Regions from separate parts of the Homo sapiens genome. Here region 2 is linked to region 1. The links come from fine-mapping of genetic effects on gene expression. A gene starts in region 1. The other region holds a variant in brackets. All regions are shown on one strand. Distances are between the middles of the regions. Region 1 holds the start of UBE2O (ubiquitin conjugating enzyme E2 O). Region 2 overlaps UBE2O (ubiquitin conjugating enzyme E2 O).

What was found. PIP is the estimated chance that this variant, and not a neighbour inherited with it, causes the effect.
Region 2: its variant is fine-mapped to the expression of UBE2O in whole blood (INTERVAL, PIP 0.95).

Annotation. Positions count from the first base shown.
Region 1 is chr17:76,451,681-76,454,585 of GRCh38, forward strand. UBE2O (ubiquitin conjugating enzyme E2 O) reads right to left here and starts at 1,472. Exons shown (of 18, transcript NM_022066.4): 1 at 1,045-1,472. The coding sequence starts at 1,461. It also overlaps a transcript of AANAT not described here. RefSeq lists silencers at 824-1,023, 1,144-1,683, 1,478-1,646.
Region 2 is chr17:76,422,003-76,424,907 of GRCh38, forward strand. All of the region lies in intron 1 of UBE2O (ubiquitin conjugating enzyme E2 O), which reads right to left. Among named protein-coding and RNA genes, the nearest start is that of UBE2O, 30 kb to the right of the region's middle. RefSeq lists enhancers at 533-1,034, 1,035-1,534. The variant C/T (reference allele first, on the strand shown) is at 1,249.

The sequences.
Region 1 (2,905 bases):
CAAGGACCTAAAACAGCGTAGGCCTGATTCCTGCTTAGAAATGTTTTCTTGAAGGGGAGGGGAAGTAGGAGAGAAAGAAGGGGTGTGAGATACAGGGGGGTGTGTGTGTGTGTGTGTGTGTGTCAATTACTGATAGGAATTCACATTCTGGAAAACAAGCCACCAAACCAACCCGGGTTCAAGGTTTCGGGTTTATGATGACAAGCCTCTTTGTTTTGTAAAACTGCTATACTCACTAGCATCACCCCAAAAACCATACGGGAGTCAGATGTCTGCTTAACAGCTTCAGGTCAAGAAAAAACCTTCGGGTTTCCAAATTGGTGACTCCCCTCTACCCAGGGTTCTGGATTATTTTTTTCAAGGAGTCCATATGCACTTAGGAGTCATCAATCCCGGTCGCAGCTGTCAGAATCCTCCCCCCCAAGTACTATTCATACCGGGGCTCTGATTGCTAATGATTTTACTCACAAAGTTCCCTGCAGCAATTAAAAGGAGGCAGCAGGGTAAAACAAAAAGAGGCTGGGTGGCTTCACCATAATGCAGCCTGTAAGCTAGTGAACTTCTTGGGTTCGGCTGGGATTTTCACCTCTATCTTTGTTTTGGAATGCCCACAACCCCTCCCTGCACGGACCCGGCACGGCCTTCATTTCTGGATGCACAATGCAGTACCGAGCTCCTTGGGGGTCAGCAAAACGCCGCACTGGTGTAACGCCGAACGCGCCCCAGAACCTGAGTCCCCACGGGAGTCGGTCCACGTCTCTAAATCTCGAGGCCGACACCACAGCATAACATGTCTTAGAAGTCCCCTCAAGTCGGGAAGCCCAGGGCCCGCCCGGTCCCGGGCCAGCAGTGCCTGGCTGGCGTGTGCGCCCAGAGCTGCTGCAATGACTTTGCATGGAGTGTACCCTCCACTGGGGCTGTCCTCCCGCGTCGGCCACTGCAGTGGCACCGCTCCGGGCAGGGCCCTGCACGCCGTCCTTCCCTGGCCTCGGCCCGGCCGCCGACCCCCTGCCGCCCGCGCCGCCCAGCCCCCGCCCGCCGCACCTTGGTCTCCTTCACATGCTGCTTGACGCCCTCCGGGTACCACTGGACGCGCACGTAGCCGCGGCGCAGGGGGCTGGCCCGGCCCTCCTCGTGGCCCGCGCCCCCGGCCTCGGAGCACCCCGAGCTCCCGCGGCCCTCCTCCTCGCCCTCCGAGTCCGAGTCCTCGCCGTGGATGAGGCGCACCAGCCCGAAGTGCACGGAGCCACGGTAACGGCCCGACACCAGGTCGTGAGAAAACAGCAGGCGCTGCGAGCCGGCTTCTGGGCCGGAGTCCGAGGACGGCCCGGAGGCCGAGTCCGAGGCGGGCGCCGGCGCCGGGACGGGGGCTGCGGCTGGGGCCGGGACTGCCTCCGGGGCTGGAGCCGGGGCCTGGGCTGGAGCGGGAGCTGCGGGCGTGGGGGCTGCGGGATCCGCCATAACTGCTCTGCGCGAGTCTCGGGCGGCGGCGGCGACAGCGGCGGCGAACGAGGCGCGGGGAGGCGGGACCAGCGGGCGCCGGGGGCGGGGCCATAGCGCGCTGACGTGTCCCTGCGTGGCGCCGTCGTCAGGGAGCCGGGATGCAGTTGCTAGGAGCCACCGCCTCGTCGCTAGGGGACGCTGAAGATGCCGCGGGGGGCGGGGGCAGGATGGAATCCACTAAGAAGGGGCGAGACCAGTGAGGATTCAACTAAAGGGAGCGAGAAGGGGCGGGGACCCGGGAGGAGGAAGTGGAGTGGCCACCGAGGAAGAGGGGAGTGGTCGGGGTGGGGCACAGGATGGTGGAGAGACTGTCAACAACTTTTAATGAGCTCCCTTGGCGTCCTAGCCTAGCCCCCAGGCACTGGGAGCATTGCAGAAAGAGAAAGATACTGTCCCTGTCCTCTAGGTGTTTCCAGTCTAGTTGGGGAGACAAAACAAATACACATTAAATAGATAACAAACAACTCCAACTTGTAAGGCTATAATAGATACGTGTAGAGCATATGTATAATGCACTGTATTCAGGAATTCCAAGCAGTTCGAACGTCATGACCCCTCAGAAGTTGACCCAGAAGCTGGTGAAGGAGGCCCAGAGAAAGGTAACAAAAGGATCAGTGGTCCCAGTGGTTTGGCTACAAATCCATGCAGATAAATTCAAAGCTCCCTGAAGCCAAGAATGAATGGCAAGAGGTAGTATAGTAAGGTAGCTAAGAGTGGGGACCACGGATTCCAATTTTTGGCACTGCCACTTACTAATCTATAAAAATAGGCACACTGATTAACTTATTTTCATCTTAATTTGCTCATCTGTGAAATAGGGATGATAATAGCAATACTCATCTCATTGGGCAATTGGAGGATTAAGTGAAGTAGAACAGTGCCTGGCATTTAGCTCCTTCGATAAGCTTAACCATTGTTGTACTATTTCCAAACTCCCTGCCTAGACTAAATTCCAGACTGGCAGAACTGTTATGGTCTGCTCCATATTGTCATTTTAAAATATAAAAAGTAGGCCGGGCGCGGCAGCTCACACCTGTCATCCCAGTACTTTGGGAGGCTGAGGTGGGCGGATCACGAGGTCAAGAGATTGAGACCATCCTGGCCAACATGGCGAAACCCCATCTCTACTAAAAATACGGAAAAAAAAAAAAAATAGCTGGGCGTGGTGGCACATGGCTGTAGTCCCAGCTACTCAGGAGGCTGAGGCAGGCAAATCGCTTGAACCTGGGAGGCTGAGGTTGCAGTGAGCCCAGATCGCGCCACTGCACTCCACCCTGGGCAACAGAGCAAGACTCTGTCTCAAAAAAATAAATAAATAAAAATAAATAAAATATAAAAAGTAACTCTAGGGCCAGGCGTGGTGGCTCATGCCTGTAATCCCAGCACTTTGGGAGGCAGAAGC
Region 2 (2,905 bases), 30 kb before region 1:
ATGGAGATGTCTCAAAGGATCTGCTGTGTCCTTCCTTTAAGGGACAACCAAGCCACAGGAGGGTCAGGCAGGCCTGTGGTGATGTTTTTGAGACCTCTATGTGTGATAAGTAATGGGACGTGTGCTAAGTAACCCCAAAATGCTAGTTCTCGTGGCCTCTCTCTCCGGCTTTTCCTCAATGGCTCCCAACTATTTCAGTCACTCCACTCATTCACAGCCTGAGTGGTCCTGAAAGGGAAGATGATGTGTGGAAGCACGACCTAAATGAACAACACGGGGAGAGGGCATGGGCAAAGGGCGGCTCACTTTAACCTGGCTTTTCCCAGGCTGAGCTCAAGTCCCATCTCTCCTCCAGCAAGGGCTTGACACAGACACAACCTGCTCTGTCATAAGGTCTGGGCACCCAGTGGCCTCTTCCTCCCGTTCATCATATGCTGTAGACCATCCATTCAGTTGTTCCCTCGCCCATTCAGCAAACTGAATAACCACTGGGTGGGCAGACGCTGTGCCAGATGCCAATGAAACATCTGGAACACGAGACAGTCCTGCAGGTGTCCGAGCAGGACGGAGGTTCCATCTGCAATGAAGCCGAGGCACGCCAGGCTTGGGGAGGTGTGGCCACCACAGGGAACAGCCATGGCTCAAATGTTCCCCCAGATAGCTGCACCCAAGTTTCTGCTCAGATGTCACCTCCTCAGAAGGGCTTCTCTGGCCACCCTGTCTGGAATTGCTCCTCCTCATTCTCTATCCACCTGCTTTATTTTTCTTCACAGCACTTACTGTTCCCACACCTGCAGTCTGTGTGCCCCATGGGGGTTAGAATGTGAACCACACAAGGGCAGGCACTGGGCACCAGTGCACCCCAGCAAGTGCCTGGAACACAGAAGGGTGCCTCTGAGGAGTCACTAGAGACAGCTGAAGGAAAAGCCATGGGAATTGGGAACAAGTGTCAAGAAAGGAGTGGCTAGCAATGCCTGATGCTGCTGAGAGATCCAGTGCCACGGGGAAGTGTCCCTGCTGACCTGGGCTCAGCAGTCCCAATGGGTGGCGTGGGCAGAATCCCCAATGGCGGGGCCTGGAGAACATCTGGCAATGCAGGAAACAGGAATCACAGCATGGAGCTCATTCAGGAACTACGGCTGAAGAGCAGGAAAAGGAGGAAGAGGTAGGTGAGGGGGTGGATGTGGGCTGAGGAAGGGTCTCTTTTCAAGACATTAAAAATGGGGTCAAGCTGGGCACGGTGGTACG[C/T]ACCTGGAGCCCCAGCTACTCAAGAGGCTGAGGTGGGAGGATTGCTTAAGCCCAGGAATTCGACGCTGCAGTGAGCCCTGATTGTGCCAATGCACTCCAGCCTGGGTGACAAGAGTAAGACCCTATCTCTAAAAAATAAATACAGTAAAAATAAAAATGAGGGCCCGGCGTGGTGGCTCATGCCTGTAATCCCAGCACTTCGGGAGGCCGAGGTGGGAGGATCATGAGGTCAGAAGATCAAGACCATCCTGGCTAACATGGTGAAACCCAGTCTCTACTAAAAATACAAAAAATTAGCCAGGCATGGTGGCACGTACCTATAGTCCCAGCTACTTGGGGGGCTGAGGCAGGAAAATCGCTTGAACCTGGGAGGCGGAGCTTGCAGTGAGCCGAGATCACAACACTGCACTCCAGCCTGGGTGACAGAGGGACACTCCATCTCAAAATAAATAAATAAATAAATAAATAAATAAATAAAAAATAAGGTCAGGCAGGAAGCTGCCAAGGGAGAGCCTGAAGATTCAGGCCCAGGACATAATTGATAGAGGTGGCCTACGGCACAGTGTCCGCAAAGGAACCAGAACACAGGAGAGGAGACTTCCTCTCTTCACACCAGGTGGCTCTCAGCTACTTCCAGGTTGGGTTCTTTTTTTTTTTTTTTTTTTTTTTGAGACGGAGTCTCGCTCTGTCACCCAGGCTGTAGTGCTAGTGCAGCGGCGCGATCTTGGCTCACTGCAAGCTCCACCTCCCAAGTTCACGCCGTTCTCCTGCCTCAGCCTCCTGAGTAGCTGGGACTACAGGCCCCCGCCACCATGCCCAGCTAATTTTTTTGTATTTTTAGTAGAGACGGGGTTTCACCATGTTAGCCAGGATGGTCTCGATCTCCTGACCTTGTGATCCGTCCGTCTCGGCCTCCCAAAGTGCTGGGATTACAGGCGTGAGCCACCGCGCCCGGCCTTTTTTTTTTTTTTTTTTGAGACAGAATTTAACTTTTGTTGCCCAGCCTGGAGTGCAATGGCACAACCTAGGCTCACTGCAACCTCTGTCTCCCAGGTTCAAGCGATTCTCCTGTCTCAGCCTCCCCAGTAGCTGGGATTACAAGTGTGAGCCACCACACTCTGCTAATTTTTTGTATTTTTGTAGAGACAGGGTTTCACCATATTGGCCAGGCTGGTCTCGAACTCCTGACCTCACGTGATTCGCCCACCTCAGCCTCCCAAAGTGCTGGGATTACAGGCGTGAACCACCGTGCCCAGCCCACTAGTATTTTTTATATTCGTTACATTCTGAAATGGTATCTTGGATATATACTGAGTTAAATAAAACATTAAAATTAATTTCTGGCTGAGTGAGGTGGCTCATGTCTGTAATTCCAGCACTTTGGGAAGCCAAGGTGGGAGGATTGCTTGAGGCCAGGAGTTCAAGACCAGCCTGGGCAACAGAGTAAGACCCTATCTCTACATAAAAAAATGGCAGCAGGATCCCTTAAGCCAGGTGTTTGAGGTTACAATGAGCTATGATCGAGCCACTGCACTCCAGCCCGGGCAACAGAGCAAGACTCCATCCACCTCTACCTCCAAAATTAATTTCACCTGTTTCTTTTTTTTTTTTTATTTTTTATTTTTTTTTTTTGAGACAGAGTCTCGCCCTCACCCTG